3 separate regions of the Homo sapiens genome follow, and all the other regions are linked to region 3. The links come from fine-mapping of genetic effects on gene expression. A gene starts in region 3. Each other region holds a variant in brackets. All regions are shown on one strand. Distances are between the middles of the regions. Region 1 overlaps WWP2 (WW domain containing E3 ubiquitin protein ligase 2). Region 2 overlaps WWP2 (WW domain containing E3 ubiquitin protein ligase 2). Region 3 holds the start of WWP2 (WW domain containing E3 ubiquitin protein ligase 2).

What was found. PIP is the estimated chance that this variant, and not a neighbour inherited with it, causes the effect.
Region 1: its variant is fine-mapped to the expression of WWP2 in whole blood (INTERVAL, PIP 0.95).
Region 2: its variant is fine-mapped to the expression of WWP2 in whole blood (TOPMed, PIP above 0.99).

Annotation. Positions count from the first base shown.
Region 1 is chr16:69,846,997-69,855,175 of GRCh38, reverse strand. All of the region lies in intron 6 of WWP2 (WW domain containing E3 ubiquitin protein ligase 2), which reads right to left. Among named protein-coding and RNA genes, the nearest start is that of MIR140, 82 kb to the left of the region's middle. The variant G/TG (reference allele first, on the strand shown) is at 4,790.
Region 2 is chr16:69,866,056-69,874,234 of GRCh38, reverse strand. It overlaps WWP2 (WW domain containing E3 ubiquitin protein ligase 2), which reads right to left. Exons shown (of 24, transcript NM_001270454.2): 7 at 2,304-2,431. Among named protein-coding and RNA genes, the nearest start is that of MIR140, 63 kb to the left of the region's middle. The variant T/C (reference allele first, on the strand shown) is at 4,660.
Region 3 is chr16:69,758,346-69,766,524 of GRCh38, reverse strand. WWP2 (WW domain containing E3 ubiquitin protein ligase 2) reads right to left here and starts at 4,193. Exons shown (of 24, transcript NM_001270454.2): 1 at 4,134-4,193. RefSeq lists silencers at 3,717-3,766, 3,787-3,946, 3,967-4,106 and an enhancer at 3,810-4,388.

The DNA.
Region 1 (8,179 bases), 89 kb before region 3:
ATTTTTATCTAAAACAAAATGAAAAGCCGGCTGGGGCTCAGCGGCTCATGCCTGTAATCCCAGCACTTTGGAAGGCCAAGGCTGGTGGATCGCTTGAGTTCAGAGTTCAAGACCAGCCTGGGGAGACCTTATCTCTACAAAAAATTTTAAAAATTAGCCTACTGTGGTGGTGCACACCTGTAGTCCCAGCTATTTGGGAGGCTGAGGCAAGAGGATCACTTGAGCCTTGGAGGTTGAGGCTGCAGTGGGCCTTGATTGCACCACTGTACTCTAGCCTGGATGACAGAACAAGACCCTGTCTCAAAATTTTAAAAAACAAAAAAGAGGCTAGGCGCGGTGGCCCACACTTGTAATCCCAGCACTTTGGGAGGCCAAGGCAGGTGGATCACCTGAGGTCAGGAGTTCGAGACCAGCATGACCAACTTGGCGAAACCTCGCCTCTACTAAAAATACAAAAATTATCCAGGCGTGGTGGCAGGTGCCTGTAGTCACAGCTACTCAGGAGGCTGAGGCATGAGAACTGCTTGAACCCAGAAGGCAGAGTTTGCAGTGAGCCAAGATCGTGCCACTGCACTCCAGCCTGGGCGACAGAGCAAGATTCCATCTCAAAAATAAATAAACTTAAAAAAAAAAAGAAAAGCCTACATACAGAATTGATTCAACGTTTGAAAGGAGTCATTCTATTTAGGCTATTTAAATGCCACCAGAAAGGCAGTCACTAAACCAAACCCCAAATCACCACCTCCACAGACCTTGGCACTTTAAAAGGAGCCATCCAGTTCCAACAGAATCCGAAAGGAAAAGTCGAACCTCATCTCACCAAACCACAGCCACAAACACCATGGCTGAAGCACCCCTCTTTCCTCGCCATCCACATCTGTCTAAAGCATTTGCAGCCAGTTCTGTTCTGGTCTTCCATCAGCACATGGTCAAGCTACCAAGCTCTCAAGACTAGAAAGTCATTTCTCCAACACCCATACTCTTTTTATTGGCTTCTCTCTAAACTTGTCCCCTTTCGATCACAATTTTCTAGGACCAAGAAGTAGTAGAATCCAGATACAGATCTGGTTCAAGTAGAACTAGCACTCACGTGCCCTGAATTGTGCCCTTATTGTGGCCCTGTGGTTCACTGTCAGGAATACGATGTTTCTCTCTGTGTCTCTTCAGTTAGGTTCTCATTCCTCCTCCTATGGGTGCACTTTCAGAGAAATGACTCTGCCCCAGAGCCAGGCAGTACCAATGTTCCATAAACCCTGCTGAACACCAAAGCCGACCACCATGGGAGATGTGGTTTTAAAGTGACATCTTCATTAGCTCCCCGCCTCTTGCGTCTCTTGTCTCCATGAATGACAGCACAGTAGAGGAATCTGGGAGTACCCCCCTCCCTCCTTACCCTTCACCTTGTCTCATTAGCCAGCCATGCAGTCCTGCTTAATTACACCTCCTAGGTATTTCTCTTGTCTCCTCTCTATTCGCTACTGCCCAAGGCTAGTCATCAATTGTAACCTCACCAGTTCCTGCAACAGTCCTCTTCGTCAGTCCCTGAGTCTGGTCTCAGCCCCACTGTATCAGACATTCCCACCCTCTTCTATCCCATATGCCCGCCCTGACGCACTGCAGGGCCTAGAAGACTTCCAGACCCTCCTGCAGATAGGCTCTGGGTGTGATTTAGGTTGCACCAATGAGAAGTTCTTGCAGAAAGGTTGGAAAGCAGAAGGAAGGCAGAAGCCATTTGTCCTGTGGTGGTGGTGACTGGCAGGGGCTCCAGCAGACACCATGCCTCATCGCCTGCACACCCACTTCAAATACATAAAGCGGTTGCAAGGGCACAGTAGTTTCTTGGCATGTGAACTGGAGCTGCAAGCCTGTGAGCCTGTAACCAAAGACCTCAGGGAGACCCCTCACTCCTATTGCATCAGCCCATCCAGTGACTTTTATAAGCATCTAATTCCCCATATTAAATCCTTTTCTGCTCAAAATACCTAGAGTGTTTTCTGTTTCCTGCAATGAACCCCAACTGATATAGCTCCGAATTCATCCATTAGACTACTTTCCTGAATAATTTACCGCAGAAATAGCCTTACCATTGCCTTGCTCAAAATCCACTGGTTCCCTGTCTCCAAAGAATAAAATCTACAGTCCTCAGTAAAACACAAAAGACCCTTTGTGAACTGCTCTTGCCTTCAAACCATCTCCTACAGCCAGGGACTGGCAAACTTTCTGCAAAGAGCCAAATCGTAAATCTTTTAGGTTTTGCTGACCATAAGATCTCTGTTCTAACTACTTAACATACCATCGTAGCATGAAAGTAGCCACAGACAATATGAAAATAAATGAGTATGGCCATATAAAAATAAAACTGTATTTCCAAAAACAGGTGGTAAAGAGAATGAGAAGACAAGCCGCAGACTGGGAGAAAATATTGGCAAAACATATATCTGATAAAGAACTGCTATCCAAAATATACAAAAAATGCTTAAAACTCAACAATAAGAACATGAACAACCAGATTTTTAAAATGGGCAAAGGACCTGAACAGACACCCTGCCAAAGAAGATATACAGATGGAATATAAGCATATGAAAAGACTCTCCATATCATAGGCCGGGCAAGGCAGCTCATGCCTGTAATCCCAGCACTTTGGGAGGCCGAGGTGGGCGGATCACCTGAGGTCAGGAGTTCGAGACCAACCTGGCCAACATGGTGAAACCCAGTTTCTACTTAAAATACAAAAAAATTAGCTGGGCGTGGTGGCAGGTGCCACCCAGCTACTCAGGAGGCTGAGGCAGGAGAATCACTTGAACCTAGGAGGTGGAGGGTGCAGTAAGCCGAGATCACACCATTGCACTCCAGCCTGGACAACAGAGTGAGGCTCTTTCTCAAAAAAAAAAAGAGACTCTCCACATCATATATCATCCAGGAAATGCAAATTAAAGTGAGATATCACTAGATACCCATTAGAATAGCCAAAATCCAGAAAATGGACTACATCAAACCTGGTGAAGATGTGGAGCAACAGGAACTCTCACTCACTGCTGGTGGCAATGCAAACTGGTGCAGCCGTTTTGGAAAACAGTTTAGCAGTTTCTTACAAAACTAAGCATACTTTTACCATATGACCCAGCAATCATGTTCCTTTGTATTTACCCAAGCAAGTTAAAAACTTTGTTTTGTTTTGTTTTGTTTTGTTTTAGCTGGAATCTCGCTGCTCTGTCGCCAGGCTGGAGTGCAGTGGCGTGATCTCAGCTCACTGCAAACTCCACCCCCCAGATTTAAGCTATTCTCCTGCCTCAGCCTCCCGAGTAGCTGGGACTCCAGGAGCGCACTACCACGCCCAGCTAATTTTTTTTTGTATTTTTACTAGAGATGGGGTTTCACTATGTTGGCCAGGATGGTCTGGATCTCTTGACCTTGCGATATGCCTGCCTCGGCCTCCCACAGTGCTAGGATTACAGGCATGAGCCACCGTTCCCGACCGAGTTGAAAACTTTTATCTGCACAGAAACCTGCACACTAATGTTTATGGCAGCTTTATTATTCATCATTGCCAAAACTTGGAAGCAACCAGTAAATGAATGAATAAACTGTGGAGGAGGAATGTAAAAGTGAATGGATAAACTGTGGTACATGCAGACAATGAAATATTATTCAGTACCCAAAATATCAAGCCATGAGAAGACGTGAAAGAAACGTAAATCCCAATTACTAAGTGAAAGAAGCCAATCTGACAAGGCTATATACTCTATGATCCAGCTATACGACATTCTGGAAATGGCAAAACTATGCAGACAATAAAATATCAGTGGTTACAATGGGCTGGGGACGGGAGGGAGAGATGAATAGATGAAGCACAGGGCAGTGAAACTACTCTGTATGACAGAGTAATGGTGGATACATGTGAGGGCCAAGGCACGTGGATCACTTGAGTCCAGGAGTTCAAGACCAGCCTGGCCAACATGGGGAAACCTCATCTCTACTAAAAATACAAAAAAAAAAAATTAGCTGGGCATGGTGGTGAATGCTTGTAATCCCAGCTACTCAGGAGGCTGAGGCATGAGACTCACTTGAACCTGGGAGGCAGAGGTTGCAGTAAGCTGAGATTGAGCCACTGCACTCCAGCCAGTGGAATGACAGAGCGAGACTCTGTCCAAAAAAAAAAAAAAAAAATTAAAGAGTGAAACCTAATATACATTTTGGACTTTGAGTGACAATGATGTGTCAATGCAGGCTCATCATTCTAACAAATGTACCACTCTGGTGGGGGATGTTGATAGTGGGGAAGAGAGTATATATGTTTGGGGGAACCTAAAAGTGCTCTAAAAAAAACACGGCAGATTTCACCCAGCAAAAACAAACAAACAAACAAGAACACCAACAAAAAAGCAGATGGCAGGCTGGATTCAGCCTGCAAACCCTAGTTTGCTACGCTATCATCCCTAATATCTTACATGTCAACATTTCTAAATGACTTTTATTTCCTCAAATACATCAAGTTCTCTTACTCCTCCTTGCCTTCACTCATGCTGTACCCTCTGCCTGCAGTGACATCCCTGAACCCCACTTCGTCGGTCTGGCAAACTCCTTCAAAATACTGCTCAAATGTGGGAGGTCTTCCCCAAATCTCCCAGGCATATCTAGGTAATGTCCCACTACATTCCTCTTGCATGTGTACATACCATCACCATGGATCCATCACACTAGACTCTAACTCATCCATGCATCTGTCTCCTACTAGAGACACTCCCTGATGTCAGGGACCCTGACTTTTCATCATTTTTTTTTTTTTTTT[G/TG]AGATGGAGTCTCAGTCTGTTGCCCAGGCTGGAGTGCAGTGGTGTGATCTCGGCTCACTGCAAGCTCCACCTCCTGGGTTCACACCATTCTCCTGCCTCAGCCTCCCGAGTAGCTGGGACTACAGGCGCACACCACCACGCCCGGCTAATTTTTTTGTATTTTTAGTAGGGACGGGGTTTCACCGTGTTAGCCAGGATGGTCTCAATCTCCTGACCTCATGATCTGCCCACCTTGGCCTCCCAAAGTGCTGGGATTACAGGCGTGAGCCACTGCGCCCGGCCGACTTTTCATCTTTTAATCACCACGACAGCTCAGAGCCTGGCATTCATGTATATCAAGTGAATATTGCCTTCAACGGCAGAGATTTGCCTTCCTTCCTCCTAGTTTATAACCAGCTTTCTGGCGCATGCCACATCTGGCATTATAAACATCTCTCTAGGCTCATACAGAGTAAATGCCAAATAAATATCTATGCAATAAATAAATGTATAATAAGGTACCATGTATCATTTTAATTGATGCAAAATAAACCAATGTATAAATGAGTGTGTAATTAATCTCCATGATTTTTTTTTTAAGAGACAGGGTCTCCCTATGTTGTCCAGGCTGGAGTGCAGTGGCACGATCATAACTCACTGCAGCCTCAAACTCCTGGCCTCAAGCGATCCTTCTGCCTCAGCCTCCCAAAGAGCTGGGACTCAGGCATACAGCCACCATGCCCAGCCATGATTACTTTTCAACGTCTGGCTTGGAGAATGCAGTGGGACCCTTGACCACTGTCTCAATCCTATTCCATATTTACCAACTGCTCAGAAGAAAGCCCTGCCTACAAGCAGGGACTTTGAGCAGGGACTATGTCTTAATTATAACTGAATGAATGAATGAATGAATGAATGAATGAATAAATAAATAAATAAATAACACTTATTCCATTGTCTTCCCCAGCAACAGAAATGAGGCAATACCCAGATTTTAAGCATAAGCTACTGCATGGGAGGACTTTCCTGCTGACAGGGCAACATCTCTAAATAACTGCAGTTCCCAATCAAGCAGCCTTTAGTCACCTCAGTGGAAGGAGGGGTGGCAACCGCCAGCCAACAATGACTGTGAGAATGGCCTAGTGCCCAAGGCTCAGCTCCTATCCACCCTCCACCCCTCCTCCCTGCTAGCTCTGCTTCCCAATTCTCCCCCGGCCCTCCCAGGACTTCCTGAAGTGTTCACAGTGGACTCACACCCGCCTGAGTTTATTTTTCTTTCCTTTCTGGGATAGGCTGTCTGCAGACACAGTTGATGATCTATTTAGAGCTCACCGGAGACGGTTAGGCTTTATAAGTCTCCGAGATTACAGATCTTTTAAATCTTCAGAGGCCGTTAATGCCAAGGCAAGGGAGCCAATAAATCTGATATGTTTTCATCAAAGCAGGACAAAAAAAGAAGAGTAAAGGAGTGAGAAAGAAAACTATCTAAGAGGCTCTGAAACTTTTCCATGTAAAAAAATCACTGGGAAAGACATCTTAAAATGCAGATTGTGACCAACACTGGCCACTACTGACAGCTGATGAGGGCCACAGGCAAATCCAAGGTCCCCAGGCCTACATGCACACACAAACACACACATACACACTCTCTCATGTGCGTTCACATGCATTCTTAAACAAAATAGCTTAAATACATATACACATAAGAAAGGAAAATAAATTGTTGAAGGCTCTATATATAGCTTCTTTTTTTTTTTTTTTTTTTTTTTTAGCAACAGCATCTAGCTCTGTTGCCCAGGCTGGATTGCAGGGTCTCCATCTTGGCTCACTATAGCCTCAAATTCCTGGGCTCAAGCAATCCTCCCAACTCAGCCTCCCAAAGTGCTGGGATTACAGGCATGAGCCACTGCACCTAGCTATTGACACTTCGCTTCTTGTTTGTTTGTTTTTTTTTTTTGAGATGGAGCTTTGCTCTTGTTGACCAGGCTGGAGTGCAATGGCACGATCTGGGCTCACCACAACCTCCACTTCCCAGATTCAAGTGATTCTCCTGCCTCAGCTCCCCACGTAGCCGGGATTACAGGCATGCGCCACCACGCCTGGCTAACTTTGTATTTTTAGAAGAGATGGGGTTTCTCCATGTTGGTCAGGCTGGTCTTGAACTTCCGACCTCAGGTGATCCACTCACCTCAGCCTCCCAAAGCGCTGGGATTACACCCAGCCTGCACGCTGAGCCACTGCGCCCAGCTGACAGCTTCTTAACTAAGATCCCTTATGTTAATCCCTATTAATGAAAAATTTTATGAATCAAAAAGCAAATTAAATGCATTCTTCTCATTTTGTTGTTGTTGTTCCATTTCCCTGTATGACTATGGAAATTTTACTGAGATTCTAGACAGAGGAGCCAGTTATTCAAGCCAGAGGAAGTCGTGAGGTGCTAGGAGGAGCAGCTCCACTCACAGACAGTCCTGTGGGCTTCATTCCAACTTGACTCCCTGCTATGGTTTGGATGCAGTTTGTCCCCACCAAAATTCATGTTGAAATTTGATTCCCAATGTGGCAGAGTTGGGAGGTGAGACCTAGTGGGAGGTGTTTAGGTCATGGGGGTGGATCCCTCATGAATAAATTAATGTCCTCTCATGGGGGTGAGTGAGTTCTCTCTGTTGGGAACCTGCAAGAATGGGTTATTAAAAAGAGCCTGGCCAGGCGCGGTGGCTCACAGCTGTAATCCCAGCACTTTAGGAGGCCGAGGCGGGCAGATCACCTGAGGTCGGGAGTTCGAGACCAGCCTGACCAACATGGAGAAACCCCATCTCTACTAAAAATACAAAATTAGTCAGGCATGGTGGCGCATGCCTGTAATCCCAGCTACTCAGGGGCTGAGGCAGGAGAATAGCTTGAACCTGGGAGAGAGAAGTTGCAGTGAGCTGAGTTTGCACCATTGCAGTCCACCCTGGGCAACAAGAGTGAAACTCCATCTCAAAAAAATTAAAAAAAAAAAAAATAAGAAAAATAAATAAAAAGGCAGGGCATGGTGGCTCATGCCTGTAATCCCAGCACTTTGGGAGGCCAAGGTGCGTGGATCGCCTGAAGTCAGGAGTTTGAGACCAGCCTGACCAATATGGTGAAACCCCGTCTCTACTAAAAATGCAAAAATTAGTCGGGCATGGTGGCATGTGCCTGTAGTCCCAGCTACTCTGGAGGATGAGACAGGAGAATTGCTTGAACCTGGGAGGCAGAGTTTATAGTGAGCCGAGATCGTGGCACTGCACTCCAGCCTGGGCGACAGAGCAAGACTCCATCTCAAATTTAAAAATAAATAAATAAATAATAAAAAGAGCCTGGCAGCAGGTGTAGGGCCTGGCACACACCTGTAGTCCCAGCTACTTGGGAGGCTAAAGCAAGAGGATC
Region 2 (8,179 bases), 110 kb before region 3:
CTTGGGGCAGACGTTATATAAAGTACAGGCTGCCTGTGAGGTAAAGGTGAACCACCATCACAGCAGAAAGGGGAGAGATGGACATCAAGCCCTCAGCACTGGAGTGGGCAGAAATCCCTAAAATACAACTGCCCTTCAGAGATGGATCTTAGGAACAGGTTTGGGCACTGAGAGACACCACCATGAAACACTTCCAAGGCAGTCCAAGGTTAGAGACGCCTGGCTTTTGAAGACACGGCTGGCACCTGCCTTGTCTGCTAGAACATAAGGTTCCTAGAGATAAGGACAACAAGTAATGGTACCTAAAAATAAATGTAGGGGAAATATAGCTCTATTGAAATGTCCAAGAGTGACTCAAGGACCATCACCAAAGAAAATCAATTCACCAATAGTTTTTATAGGAAAAGCAGAGGTAGCTGCGGGAAACCATGATCTCAATAACACAGGCATCTGGCAGAACAAAGCTGCTAGTAGCTCTGCCATGGCACCTGGGAATCAGCTGGTTCCTAAAAGCCAGTCCCCCATCCCCATTTGTAAACACTGCCCTCCTCCACAAGCCACTGAGTTTTCTAAGAGAAAAATGCTCGCAGAGCTGCCTATGGTTCTCTATACTATGGCTCACGGCCATCACTTTGCTGTCTCCTTCACACAGACAGGAAGGCCAGGCTCAGCTACCACCGGATGTTCCAGCACAAGGATACAGTGGGTGGCACAGGGGCGCCAGGCAGCTGAGACGGCAGCCCTGGGACTCCCCACCTGCAGCTCCTCCTCTTCCCCAAGGCTCAGGGTGGGCTAGTCAGTTCACTCAAGTCCTTCAGGCAGCTCCCAAACTTCAGGGAGGAGGTCAGGCCACTGCACTCACAGTGCGCTTTGTAGGACACAGACCACTCCATCTTGTGGTCCACAGAAGATGACAGGGTACCCAGGCAACAGCAGCAGCCACGGGGACTCTGAAGCCCCCATATGGTGCTGCCACAGAACTGAAGGGTATTGCAAAGGAACCCAAATCAATTTCTTCCACTCAGTAAGTTTGTCACAGAGGTCACTTAACAATGCCACAACAACACTTCCGTGAAAAGCCATGCTGCTCTGGGTCTCCTGGCCTTTACGCCACACCTCTGCTGTCACGAGCACTAGAAAACTATCTCAGCGTCACTTACCAAATTTCAACACCTGCATTCCTCTACCTACAATTCATCCAAGCGAAACATCTACATCCCAGCCCAACTGCCCGAAATGAAGACAAACTACCAAACGACCAGCAGTCTCTAAAGATTTGACAATCTTTGAGAAGTTTATAGAAATGAATGGGTTTGTTTTTTCTTTTTCCTTTTTGACTCTGTCCTGATGAGAGAGAGGGAGAGCAGGACGGAAAATGAGTTGTTTTGAAATAGGTCCTTCCCGTCTCACTTACGGGGAAGCAGAGCCAAGTGTGGGGAAGTTCCATGCGCACGTGGACGGCACTGTCTCCTCTCAAATGGGGCCCCCATCGGGATGGCCCCTGCACACCCCCAAGTAGTTACCTGGCTCTGCCCCAGTCAGCATCTCAACCCATTCACCAGTGGTGCCATCATCTGACTCAGCTCTTAGCAACAATACTTAGTCCTACATTTCCTTAGTCTGATAATTCCCTTACGTGAAGGAAATAAAAAATATGCTATGTATAAATGAGATATCCTCCCCAACATGAAATCCAATGCAGATAAGAAATGAATAGAAAGGCTAGGCGCAGTGGCTCACGTCTGTAATCCCAGAACTTTGGGAGGCCAAGACGGGCGATCACAAGGTCAGGAGATCAAGACCATCCTGGCTAACACGGTGAAACCCTGTCTCCACTAAAAACACAAAAAATTAGCCGGGCGTGGCAGTGGGCGCCTGTAGTCCCAGCTACTCAGGAGGCTGAGGCAGAAGAATGGCATGAACCCGGGAGGCGGAGCTTGCAGTGAGCCGAGATCACGCCACTGCACTCCAGCCTGGGCGACAGGGTGAGACTCCGTCTCAAAAAAAAAAAAAGACATTTCTTTTTATTGTCTTTATAGAAAGACAAGACTTTTTATTTCTGTGCAAATGAGTATTTTAGAAGAGCGCAGTCATATGGAGAATAACCTTGGCTGTACAGAATATGCCAGAGAGAGAAGAAGATGGGTCAGTAGAAAGACTGATGGATTCAAATCCAGTTTAGTCCTAGAGCCTTCTGACGCCCACCCTCTATTCTGACACAGTGGGCAGGATCCCGTGTCCACGTTAGAACGGGTGAGAGCCCACAGCTTCAGTGCAGGCTGGCGTGCGGTGCCATCACTCACCTGTGCCATTGGCCAAGCCACTGTGGCCTGAGTTCTTGACGGGCTGGCGGTGCCGGCTCCGAGCACCGGGGCTTTGCTCGCCGGTTGCTGGGGTTGTTCTGGCTGAAGCACCCGAATGTCTGTGCGTCCTGGGGGTTCAAAGTAGAAAGCAGACAGACATAAGTCACTGTGAAAAGGACAGAAGTGTTTCCTACCTAAGTCATCATATTCCCTTCTCCTGCCATTTATTGGAAACAAGACCTTTAATAGCCCCTCTAGTTTTGGACTAAACAGAAGCTGGTTCCAAGCAGAGAGACCCAGGGAAGTTTCCTTTTTGGTAAAAGCTCAGAAGGTAACTTTGTGTAAACTTTTCCACTTCAAGTAAACAAATCCAGAGTGAATTGCCCCTACATCTGAAATAATTGGCAAAATATCCTGTGACCATCACATTATTTTTATTGGGCTCAAATGTTACAAATAAACAAGAATCACTGGACAGGCTCAGATGAAATATTTCCCCCATTAGGCAAGAAGAGCTCAAAACTTATCCAAAGCAATTTTCTCTATAGCTAGAAAGATGATTCCCTTGGCAATAAAAGTCAAGGGGCATTAAACAACTTTTAGTCAATGCATATGTTGACACTTTTTGTTGTTGTCATTCACTTGTTTGTTTAGAGACAGGGTCACACTCTGCTGCCCAGGCTGGAGTGGCACGATCATAGCTCATTGCAGCCTCAAACTCTTGGGCTCAAGTGATCCTTCCACCTCAGCCTCCCCAGTAGCTGGACTATAGGCACACAGCACCACGCCTGGCTCATTTTTTTATTTTTGGGGAGATGGGGTCTTGCTATGTTGCCAAGGCTGGTCTCAAACTCCTGAGCTCAAACGATCCTCCCACCTCAGCCTCCCAAAGTGCTGGGATTACAAGTATGAGCCACTATGCCTGGCCTAGACATGTTTTATCTAGAAAAGATGACTCAACAATCCATCCAAGTAAATGAGAAGCAATGCAGAAATCACAAAGAAAAGTGTGGAATTTAGCAGCAGAAAACCTATCAGACATCTTCAGAGAACACAAGGCAACAGGCAGCATGTGCTCTCAAGTTCTTTTTGCAGCTTGACTTTGCCCACTCAGTGAAAATGTCTAAGCCTCCCTGTCCTTCGGTTCATCTGTTTCACCAAACGAGGCTCTTCTACTACTTAGTAAGCATCTACTACTTTGCAACTGTGAGATGTTTCAAATACCATCCAGTGAAGAAAAGATCACCCCTCTCCAGACAGAGAAACAGAGACCCAGAGACAATTTGTACCATGCAACATGGGGCGATAAAACTACTCTCAACAATAAAGGTGGCTGGGCACAGTGGCTCACGCCTGTTATCCTAACACTTTGGGAGGCCAAGGCGGGAGGATCACTTGAGCCCAGGAGTTTGAGACCAGCCTGGGCAACATAATGAGACCCTGCCTCTACAAAAAATAAACAAAACTAGCTGCACTACCGGTGCATGCCTGTAGTCCCAGCTACTCAAGAGGCTGAAGTAGGAGGATCATTTGAGCCCAGAAGGTAGAGGTTTCAGGGAGCCAAGATCACGTCACTGTATTCCAGCCTGGGTGACAGAGTGAGTGAGAGTGTCTCCAAAAAAAAAAAAAAAAAGGATAAATAAATAAAGGTAATAATAATGGCTACAGAAGTATATAATATTCACTGAACTCTAACATTATGTTCCAGGCACTGTGTGTGCTATGCATTTACATATATGTTCTCATTTAACATGGGAACCCTAAAGGTAGATTAATATTATTATCCCCGCTTTACAGATAAGCAAACAGACACAGAGAAGCTCTACAGAAAGTAAGCCAAATGATGCAAAGATTCATGTACAGGCAGTTTAATGTCAAGAGCCTAGGCTCTTAGGTCAGAAGATGGGACAGGAAGCCTGAACTCAAGCTAAATTCCTCTTGGGCTATTTTTTTGTTGGTCATTTGGACAATGGTGAAATTAAGAGCTATAATAGAAAGTTCCCCATTGGGAGGATCCACCTCCAGCAGAACGACCCTGCTGGGAGTCTTTGGTCCAGTGTGTTGAGGCAGTCAACAGGAAGCTCCTTGAGGGATATGAACCACCCAGACCAGCTACCTTCTCTAAAGTAAGAAACAGAATTTGACAAGATGAACATAAACCAAAATCTTAACCGTCATTATCTTTGGATATTGGGAATAAAGAAGCCCTTTTGTGCTCTTCTAGATTTTTCCAGCTTCCTTCATTGAGCTTGTATACTTGTGAGTAAGGAAAAAAACATGACTTTTTGGCTGGGTGCAGTGGCTCACACCTGTAATCCCAACGCTTTGGGAGGCTGAGATGGGACGGCACTTGAGC[T/C]CAAGAGTTTGAGACCAGCCTGGGCAACACAGGGAGACCTCATCTCTAGCAAAAAATTTAAAAAATTAGCCAGGTGTGGTGGCGTGCCCCTGTGGTCCCAGGTACTTGGGAGGCCAAGGCAGGAGGATCACTTCAGCCTGAGAGCGTGGCAAAAGAGTGAGACCTTGTTTAACAAAAAAAAAAAATTAAGTTTTTCTTGCCCCCAATCCCCAACAAAAAAAAAAAAGGAGAAAAAGGGAGAAACGTAGCAAACTCTGGAGTCCCTCATACCTAAACACTGCATGGCAATGGAGACAGAGTACGACTGAACTGTGGAAATACTCAATGTGGACTCTCTTTTTCCACCTTAACTTTTTCCCTGAGCTAATTTCATAAATCAAAAGCTGTTGGCCGCACACAGTGGCTCATGCCTGTAATCCCAGCACTTTGGGAGGCTGAGGCAGGTGGATCACCTGAGGTCAGGAGTTCGAGACCAGCCTGGCCAACATGGCGAAACCCCATCTCTACTAAAAATACAAAATTAGCCAGGCATGGTGGTGAGCGCTTATAATCCCAGCTACTTCAGAGGCTGAGGCAGGAGAATCACTTAGAACCCGGGAGGTGGAGGTCGCAGTGAGCCGAGATTGTACCACTGCACTCCAGCCTGGACAACACAGAGAGAGACTCTGTCTCAACAACAACAACAAAAAGCTGTCAACCACACCTCAGTCAAAGATGAATATTTCAAAGTTCCCACTTCATGGGAAGAAATGTTCACCTTAAGCATTTCACCACAGCTCCTCCTCAAAAGTGGAATGAGCACAAATGAGTTCCAAAGGGAAAGGCAGGCAGCCCTCAGCAAGCTGGTGTGTGTGTATGTGTGTATATCTGTGTGTGTATGTCTGTGTGTGTGTGTGTGTGTGTGTGTGTGTGTGCACATGTGTATGTGTTGAGGGCAGAGAGCTTGAGGGAGAAAATTGGTTAATAGAAGGTTTGTTTCAGCCAAGGATCCCTTTACTAGGACAAAAAGCCTCTCTGATTTGGAACTTGCAGCCCCCAGGAGCAAGCTGGACCCCTCAGGGAGCTGCAGGACCTGCAAAACGTGCACTGTCAACCCCTCAGACAGACATGTCCATGATCAACTCCAGCCCCGGGTTCCCTGTCCCTCTGCAGAGCAGCTGGGCATGACAATAGGGTGGGTCCCATTACTCCCTGGCCCTGCCCTCCCTTCCCAGAAAGGGCATGTGGTCAGCATGGAGAGAGAATACTTTCAGAAACACTTAACCACTAATGATAGCGGCTTACCCTGAATGATGGGCTGGGCAGGGCGGGATCAGCCCTAAGCTAGGGGCAGCTGGGATCACTTTGCATGAACTGCCACCTCCCTGCCCGTGGCCAGCCACCACCCCCCAACACACACACAAACACCACATCCCCTCTCCCCAGATTCTCCCCTTGCCCTAAATCTGGAGTTTCCAGTTTTTGGCTCTTGTGTTACCTTTAAAATAAGATGCTTAAAGGAAGAAAAGGCCTCAACATCTGAGGCAACTCCTCTCTTTGGCAGTTTCCTCTCTTGGAGAACTCACTCAACCCATAAAAGATGGGATCATATTGTAATGAAAAGCTGGCCCAGATGCTGAAACCACACATCGTGGGCCAAAATAGCACCCAGACAAATGCAGGGTGATGGCTGAGACAGCCAGGCTCGGCTCTGCCCATGACTTCAACCTTGGCCCAAGCCCCCTCACCATTTAGGGGGAGGGGACGAGTTATACAGCCCCCAGGGCAGGCAGAAAGCAGTTAGAATGGCAGTGCCAGTCAGGCCAAACTCCACAAATGGTTTTAAGTCAACTCATTACAGAAATTCAGCTCTCTTTGTAGCTCGCCCTTCTCAGGATGCGGTGTGTCCTCACTCAAGGTCCTCTCTCAAGAACTGAGGCCTCCTGAAGGCAGGCCAGCCACGACCAGGACCCACGCTCCCCAAAGTGGTTCTGACACAGATGAGGTCCCCAGGACAGAGCTGCTCACTGACACTTGGCATTTAAGCTTTGATGGTCAAAGCCCTGGCCTCCATCCTCAGCTACACCCTGACAGCCAGAGCCTTGGGTGTCATGGGACACCTGGCCTCGCCCTTCATGAGGGCCGCTGAAATGTACTCAATCATCCTTTTCTGAGTGTTAGGCCCCATTCTAGAGATAAAACAGAGTCCCTGACCTCAAGGAGCTTCCACCTTAGTGGAAATGCTGTGATTTGTAATTCTGCTGAGACACAAATTTCTATCATAGCACACAATGCTGCTTTGGGGAAGCCACCTGCTGGTGAGTGAGCCTGGCTGACCACGTGACAGTGTTACCTCAGTGCAGCCTCGCTGACCATTGTCACCTTTGCAACAGATCATGTGGAGTAATTAAACAAAACAGGATTTTGTTTGTTTGGTTTAAAAAAAAAAAAAAAAAGCCTTGGCCAGGTGTAGTGGCTCATGCCTATAATCCCAGCACTTCAGGAGGCTGAGGCAGGTGGATCACCTGAGGTCAGGAGTTCGAGACCAGCCTGGCCAACATGGCAAAACCCCAACTCTACTAAAAACAAAAATTAGCCAGGCCTGGTGGCGCATGTCTGTAGTCCCAGCTACTCAGGAGCCTGAGGCAGAAGAATCACTCGAATCCAGGAGGCGGAGGTTTCAGTGAGCCAAGATCGCACCACTGCATTCCAGCCTGGGCGACAGAGCGAGACTCCGTCTCAAAAATAAATAAATAAATAAATAAATAAATAAATAAATAAATAAATAAATAAATACGGAACTGAAAGCAAGACCTCAGGAGAGATATTTGCACACGCAGGTAGACAACAGCATTATTCACAATAGCCAAGAGGTAGAAGCAACCCATCCTCGACAAATGGATAAAGTATGGTATATGCATACATATGAGTATTACTCAACCTTAAAAAGGAAGGAAATTTTGACACAGGCTACCACATGGATGAACCTCGAGGACATTCTGCTAAGTGAAAGAAGCCCGTGGCAAAAAGACAAATCCTGTGTGGTTCCATTTAAATGTTACCTGGAGTAGCCAAACTAATTGAGTGAGAAAGCGGGATGATGGTTGCAAGGAGCTAGGGAGAGGGGGAAATAGGGAAGAAATTTGTAGAAAGCAAAAATATCTAATAAAATGAGGCTAGGTGCAGTGGCTCATGCCTGTAATCCCAGCACTTTGGGAGGCTGAGGCAGGAGGATCAATTGAGACTGGCCCAGGCAATGTAGGAAGACTCCGTCTCCATAAATAAATAAATAAATAAATAAATAAATAAATAAATAAATAAATAAAATGTGAAACCTTTTTTTAAAAAGCATTTTGTGGCTTCATCAAAAATTTTAAACTCCTGCTCTTCTAAAGACACTGTCCAAAAAAATGACAGGACAGTCCACAATACTGAGAAATAATAATAAAATCCTAAGCTCCTCAACCAACTGAATGGACCCCCTCTTGGCCAAGAAGACGCCAGAGAAACCTTAAAAACCTTAATTCCCAGCCATGATGAG
Region 3 (8,179 bases):
TGGGAGGAGAGATCAGGTCATGGAAGGCTTGCAGGCCATTGTAGGGTATTGGTTTTCACTCCAGTTAAGCTGGGACAATTGGAGGGTTTGAGTTGGGCAGTGGAGTGGACAGGATCCACCCTGCCTTTTAACAGACTTGCCCTGGGTCCTGTGTGGAGAAAGTGAAGGCCAGCCAGGGTGGAAGAGGGAGACAAGTTAGGAGGCTGTTGCCATCATCCAGGGGAAAGATGCATCCAGGGTGTACTCTGAAGTACAGCCAGTAGGCTTTGTGGACGAGCTGAGTTGGATGTGGGGTGTGAGAGGAAGAGACGAGTCAAGGGTGACTCCAAGGTCTTTGGCTTGAACAACTGGAGGAATGGAGTTGTCATTAACTGAGATGGGGAAGGCTGTCTGAGGGGCAGGTGTAGGGCTCAATTTTGTTGATGTTGATTATAAAATGCCTGATAGGAATCCACGTGAAGATATTGTGGGCAATTAGATCTAGAAGTCTCGAGACAGGCCTAGGCTAGACACACATATGGAAGCTGTTAGCATGTGGATAGTATTTAGAGTTAAGAGACTGAGCCAGGTGCAATGGTTCATGCCTGTAATCTCAGCACTTTCGGAGGCTGAGGCAGGAGGATGTCTTGAGGCCAAGTGTTCAAGACCAGCCTGGGCAAAAGTGAGAACCCCCGCCCCCAACTCCCCATCTCTCCAAAAGCAAGACGGAGTCTCACTTCATCACCTAGGCTGGAGTGCAGTGGCGCGATCTTGGTTCACTGCAACCTCCATCTCCCGAGCTCAAGCAATTCTCGTGCCTCAGCCTCCCGAGTAGCTGGAATTAGACACATGTGCCAACAAGCCCAGCTAATTTTTGTATTTTGGGTAGAGATGGGGTTTCACCATGTTGGTCAGGCTGGTCTTGAAATCCTGACCTCAAGTGATCCGCCCGTCTCAGCCTCCAAAAGTTCTGGAATTACAGGCGTGAGCCACCGCACCTGGCCAGGATCCTATTTAAACTGCAACCTACATCCCTCTTCCCTGCTTTATTACAACATAATACATATTATACTTAGTTATCAATGTGCCCTTCTCTAATAAAATTGAAGATCCACAAGGGTGGGGATCCTTACCTTTCTTGTACTGCTATATTCCTGGCATTCAGAACAGGTTTGTCCAATAGAAATAAGATGGGAGCCACAAGTGCAAGCCACATTTATAATTTTTTATTTTTCTAGGAAATACATTTTAAAAAGAAAAAAGTGCTGGGTTTCAAGTCAAGGTTAAGTGGGAAAAAAAAAGACAAAAAGGTGAAACTTTTTTTCTTTTTCTTTTTCTTTTTTTTGAGACAGGGTCTCACTCTGTCACCTAGGCTAGAGTGCAATGAGTGGCACGATCACAACTCACTGCAGCCTCCACCTCCCCAGGCTTGGGTGATCCTCCCACCTCAGCCTCCTGAGTAGCCAGGCGGGCGCCACTGCACCTGGCTAATTTTTGTATTTTTTGTAGAGACAGGGTTTCACCATGTTGCCCAGGCTGGTCCCAAATTCCTGGGCTCAAGCAATCTATCCACCTTGACCTCCCAAAGTGCTGGAATTATAGGCATGAGCCACCATGTCTGACCAACTATTTATAATTACGTTGTATTTAACCCAATAAATCCAAAATGTTATCATACATGTTTATACATTATATGATCGTTTACTATAACATAAAAAGTATCAATGAGACATTTTACTTTTCTTCATGCTAAGTCTTCAAAATCCAGAATGTATTTTATGCTCACAGCATAGCTCCAGTGCTCAGCAGCCCCATGTGGCTAGTGTACACCATACTGGACTCTACAACAATGCCTGGCAAAGACAGAGTGGGTACTTATAAATATTCACTGAATGAAAGAATGTTTTCCCAGGAAGAGGAAGCTATGGTAGAGTACAGCGTTTTCTAAACTTCATTTACTCACATTCTACATTCACAACTTTTTCTGTGTGATCTTTTTCCTTAAAATGTTACACTTTTTATTCCTGAAAAATTATGTAAAAATAAAACTTTCAGTTGGGCATGGTGACTTACACCTGTAATTGCAACACTTTGAGAGGCCGAGGTGGGAGGATCGCTTGAGCCCCGGAGTTTGAAAACAGCCCGGGCAACATAGCAAAACCCCTGTCTCTACAAAAATTAGCCAGGCGAGGTGGCACCCACCTGTAGTCCCAGCTGTTTGGGAGGCAGACATGGGAGGATCACCCGAGCCCAGGCAGGTCAAGGTTACAGTGAGCCGTGATTGTGCCACTGCACTCCAGCCTGGGCAACAGAGTAAGATCCTGTCTCAAAATAAAATAAAAATAAAATTTTCTATTGTGTCAATAAATGAAAAAGAATGGATCTAAGGATTAAGGGTCTGGGCTTGAGTCCCTACTCATTTACTAGCTCTGAAATCTAAAGTAAGGACTTCATTAAGCCTCAGTCTCTTCATGTGATATAGGGACAATACTGACCATCCCAATTTCAAAGGGAAGGTTAAGTGAGATGTTGGTATACGCTCTTTGTAAATGGGAAAGTAATCATGAAGTGAAAGAGACTGAGAAGCCAATCCAAGCCTTTCTCTCGAGCCTGTTTTCATATGGACCAATGACACAGATAATCACAAGCTTCTCTGACAAGAAAAAGAGTAGAAGACTTGGGTTCAAATCCTTTGTCACCACTTACGCCGGTGTGACTTTTAGAAATGCATTTATTCACCAAATATTTATCAAGTGCTCACAACATGCCAGGCACTAGGCTAGCAGCCAAATAAAATATGAAACCTGCCCTTGAAGGATTTGCAATCTAGCAGGAAGAGGCCAGCAAACAAGAAAGAGCAATAAATTGTTTTAAAAAATCAAGTCGTCTCTCGTAAGTCTGTTTGTTCCCTGTGAAATGAGAATACATCTTCCCAACCTCACTCATAGGCGCTGCTGCAAAAACTAATTTTTAAATGTTTGTCAAATAACTCCAAAAACTTGAACTCATAATACATTAGGAAAGTACTTTTTCCTACTTGTAACCCAAAACGATGCTGGCTGCTGTGAATGTCCAGTTTGAACATTCGTTCCAGTTACACTGCACTCATGAAACTCCTTTTGCTTCTGCAAATTTTAGTAAACATGAGAAACAGGAAGATGAACAGGCTTTAACACAAGTATTCAATCTCAAAATCATGATCCAGGTCACAGTTCTAAGGAACATAACACAGACCTCTCAGGCACCCTACCTAGTTACAGTTCGTCAAGATAAGCAGTCACAAGATAAGCTAAGGGAAACTGAATAATTTAAACGGAAGAAAGAGAAAAGTCATAAAGCAGTCTAGGTAGACACTTCTCTGTCCAAGATTTCAGCAGTCACTATGTTGCTGAGGTAACGCTGGGCTAGGTCAACAGTGTAAGCTAAAAGCCATTTTACAGGCAAAGTGCCCACACTTATTTTTTTAATTTATTTTCTTTTTTTGTTTTTTAAAGCCTCGATGATGGCCCGTTCAGGGAAAATCTCAAAGAAAAATGAGCTGAAGGGCTAGGCTCCCAAGAAGTGGAAACCCTACCCACGCAGGACTAAGTGGGCGCGAGGGAAGCAAGACGATCAAGATTCTGTGATCCCTCCTGAAGTTTAAAAACTGAATGGGACCGTCATCAAAGTCTCGGGTAACAATCATTTCCAAACAGGAAGGAAGGGAGAGACTCTCAGAGGGGGTCCAGGCAGCATCTTTTTCCCTCTGGCTCCACGCCATAAACCCATTTTCAGGCACCCCCTTCCAGCTCAGTTCCAAGTCGCCCCTTCCCCTGGTCCCGATCCCTCCACAAAGATCGCTCCTCTCCATGCCTGGGAACCTAAGCTCCTCTCCCCTTCCGGGAGGACTCGCTCCAGCTGCACCCTTGGCGGCCGGGGCACCCATTTCGGAGCAACCCCCGCGCGGGCCGCGGCGCGCCCACCCCACTCGGGCGGGAGCCGGGACACCCCTCCTCGGAGGCCGGAACCGCCGCGCCAGGCCCCTCCCACAGGAAGCCGCCGCCCCCCGACGCCCGGGCCGCGCCGCCCCCGGCCCACCCCGCGCCGCCCGCCGCCCCCGGCCCGCCCCGTGCAGGCAGCCAGCCCACCGCGCCCCCCGCGCCAGCGCTCGCTACCTGCCGTGGCCACAGAAGCGGCGCCGAACTCCTCTCCTACTTCCGCCTTCCACCGCCCGCACTCGGGCCGGGTCACGTGACCGCGCGCGGTCACCTGACCCGGAAGAGGCTGGCCAGGCTCGCAGGTGCGGGCCACCTAGGCCTGGCCTGGGCACCTCTGGCCTCGAGGAGGCCTTTTTATCGTCTCTGTAGTTGAAAGTGGAAGGGTTTCTGCTCACCGGATGGTCCCAGGCAATCAAATAAATTGAGGGCTCACTGAATGCCACCTACTCTGCCCATCAACCTTATAGAGGCAGGGACAGGTACTAGCCCCATTTTACAGGTGAAACGAGACCTTCAGACTGTTAAGTCAGCAAATACTTAATTGAGCTCCTTTAGTAGGGTTGCCAGATAAAGTACAGGACACCCACTTAAATTTGAATTTCAGATAAACAACAGTGTAATATGTATGTCCCAAATACAGAATGGGACATATTTATACTAAAAAAAGTATTTTTTGATTATCTGAAGATCAAATTGAATTGAGTATCTGTATTTCTATTTCCTGGCAACCTTATGCCTATTATGTGCCAGGCACTGTTCTAAGATCCAGGACCACAAACATCTCAGCCTTTGTGGGGCATCTGTCCTTGTGACATGAAGCAAAAGTACAAAAGCTTAAAAACTCCTGCTTGGCTCCATAAAAAGCCCCTCCACACTAATCCAATCGCATTCCCTTAATCTACAACTACAGGGCACAGAGAACTTAATGAATTATAATCCAGGTAGGTAGGTAGGTAGGTAGGTGGATAGATAGATGATATTTTTTTTTTTTTTTTTGAGATGGAGCCTCGCTCTGTCGCCCAGGCTGGAGTGCAGTGGTGCAGTCTCAGCTGACTGCAACCTCCGTCTCGCCGGTTCATGCAATTCTCCTGCCTCAGCCTCCCGAGTAGCTGGGATTACAGGCGTGCACCACCACGCCTGGCTAATTTTTGCATTTTTAGTAGAGACAGGGTTCCTCCATGTTGACCAGTCTGGTCTCGAACACCTGACTTCAAATGATCCGCCCACCTTGGCCTCCCAAAGTGCTGGGATTACAGGCATGAACCACCGCACCTGGCAGAGAAATATTTTTTTTAAGAGATGGGTCTGGATAGGTTGCTTTGGCTGGGCTCGAACTCCCAGCTTCAAGCAGTCCTCTTGCTTCAGCCTCCCAAGTAGCTGAGACTACAGGCGAATGCCACTGTGCCTGCCCAATAACTTTATTTATTTATTTATTTATTTATTTATTTGCTTGCTTGAGACAGAGTTTCACTCTTGTAGCCCAGGCAGGAGTGCAGTGGCTCAATCTTGGCTCACTGCAACCTCTGCCTCCCAGGTTCAAGCAATTCTCCTTCCTCAGCCTCCTGAGTAGCTGGGACTACAGGCACCCACCACCATGCCTGGCTAATTTTTGTATTTTTAATAGAGATGGGGTTTCACCATGTTGGCCAGGCTGGTCTCAAACTCCTAACCTCAGATGATCCACCTGCCTTGGCCTCCCAAAGTGCTCAGATTATAGGCGTGAGCCAATGCGCCCGGCCTCCAAGAACATTTTAAATAGACATTCTTGACTGATGTTCTGGACAAGTTGAATGAAGGCTCAGTTTAATCACCATTGATTAAAATTAATACTAATGACGTAATTAGCCTCAAAGACTTGTACTAATCTGTTATTTTTGGGTCTTCGAATTGGGATGGATTCTATCATGCATACAAATTAAATTGGCTGGTGGGGCGTGGAGGCTCACGCCTGTAATCCCAGCACTTTGGGAGGCAGAGGCAGGTGGATTACCTGAGGTCGGGAGTTCGAAACCCACTTGGCCAACCTGGTGAAACCCCATCTCTACTAAAACTACAAAAAAAAAAAAAAAAAAGATTCGCCGGGCATGGTCCGGGTGCGGGTAATCCCAGGTACTCCAGAACCTGAGGCAGGAGAATTGCTTGAACCCGGGAGGCGGAGGTGGCAGTGAGCCATGATAACGCCTCTGCACTCCAGCCTGGGCGACAGAGTGAGACTCTGTATCTAAATAAATAAATAGGTTGAACACTTAGTCTCTACTTTTTGTAGTACCACTCCAAATCCAAGAGATTAACTTTCAAGGAGATACAGTCCTGTCTTTGTACATTAAACCCTATATTAGTCTCATTTATAAAACTACTATAACTAAAACTTCTCCAGTTCCATTGATGGCAGTTTTACTAATTCTGTTCTAGATAAATTAGAGACTATTTCCTTGACTTACTAGCATTTGTTGGTTTCGGTTTGTTTTCTTCTTTCATATTTCATTTTTTATCTTTTGTTGCTTTTTTTTAACAACCCTGCAGAAAAGATTTAGTGGCATCTGAGTAAGTGTTCACCAAAGGGGAGAAGGGACAAGCAAAGAGCACACACTGCACATTAAAAGAATAAAATCTGACAGGGTGCGGTGGCTGGCACCTGTAATCCCAGTACTTTGGGAGGCCAAGGCGGGCAGATCAGACTGTCAGGGGCTCGAGATCAGACTGGGCAACATGGTGAAAACCCATCTCTACAAAAAATACAAATATTAGCTGGGCATGGTGGCACACACCCGTAGTCCCAGCTAATCAGGAGCCTGAGGCTTGAGAATCGCTTGAACCTGGGAGGCGGAGGTTGCAGTGAGCCAAGATTGCACACTGGACTCCAGCCTGGATGACAGGGTGAGACTCTGTCTCAAAAAAAAAAAATTGATATGATAAACTAGAAAATGAGAAATAGCCTCCAGCCATACTCTGTTACGGCAGGTAGCACAGGCACGTTCTAGATAATGAAGAGACTGAGTGGTGAGAAAGGTTGAGCCAGGTGCAATGGCTCACGCCTGTAATTCTAGCACTTTGGGAGGCCAAGGCAGGTGGATCACCGTACATCAGGAGTTCGAGACCATCTGGCCAATATGGTGAAACCCCATCTGTACTAAAAATACAAAAATTAGCCAGGCGTGGTGGCGGGCACCCATAATCTCAGCTACACAGGAGGCTGAGGCAGGAGAATTGTTGAACCTGGGAGGCAGAGGTGGCAGTGAGCTGAGATCGCACCACTGTGCTCCAGCCTGGGCGACGAGAGCAAAACTCAGTCCCCTTCCCGCCACCCCAAAAAAAGAGAAAGACTGAATTTGGGTAATTGCTGAAAGGCAATATTCAGTAGCACTGAAGGATTTTTGGGGTAGGACAGATAAATGACAATTGAGGAATCCAGCTGGCGTGAAGACTTCATGAAGAAAGTTTGCATGAAGACCCAAGTCGACATTCAGCAAAATTCACCGGATCTTATAATCATAAAATTTCAGATTTGCAAGGAAACGTAGAAGTCACTAAATACACCTTCTGTTCAATTCAGCAAGGAATTATTTGCTACCAAATTATGTGTGTTGCTTAGGGAGGTGGGGTGAGACTATTAAGACAAATTAGACAGACTCTGGCCCCACGTTGCTCAAAATGAAGTGAAGGCACATAAGCAGCAGTCAGTATAACAGAATGGATAATTAGGTGGCTCAGGGACAGCACCGTGTCTCACACCTGTAATCCCAGCACTTTGGGAGGCCAAGGCTAAAGGACTGCTTGAACCTGGGAGTTTCAGACCAGCCTGGGCAACATGATGAGACTCTCATCTCTACAAAAGTAAAAATGAAAAAACTAGCTGGGCATGGTGGTGTGGGCCTGTGGTGCCAGCTACTCGAGAGGCTGAGGTAGGAGGCTCACTTGAGCCTGGGAGTTCAAGGTTGCAGTGAACTATGATCATGCCACTGCACACCAGCCTGGGCAACAGAGAGAGACCGTGTCTCAAAAAAAAAAAAAAGAAAGAAAGAAAGAAAGAGAGAGAGAGAAAAGGAAAGGAAAGAAAAAAGAAGAGAAGAGAGAAAAAAGTGGCTCTGAATCAGTTTGTCTGGGTGTTACGTTATTTTCACCACTTACTGACCATGTCAGCTACACCTAGTGGCTTTAGTTAGCTATCCCTTGTCTGTAAAACAGTACCTATCTTGGCCGGGCGCGGTGGCTCACGCCTGTAA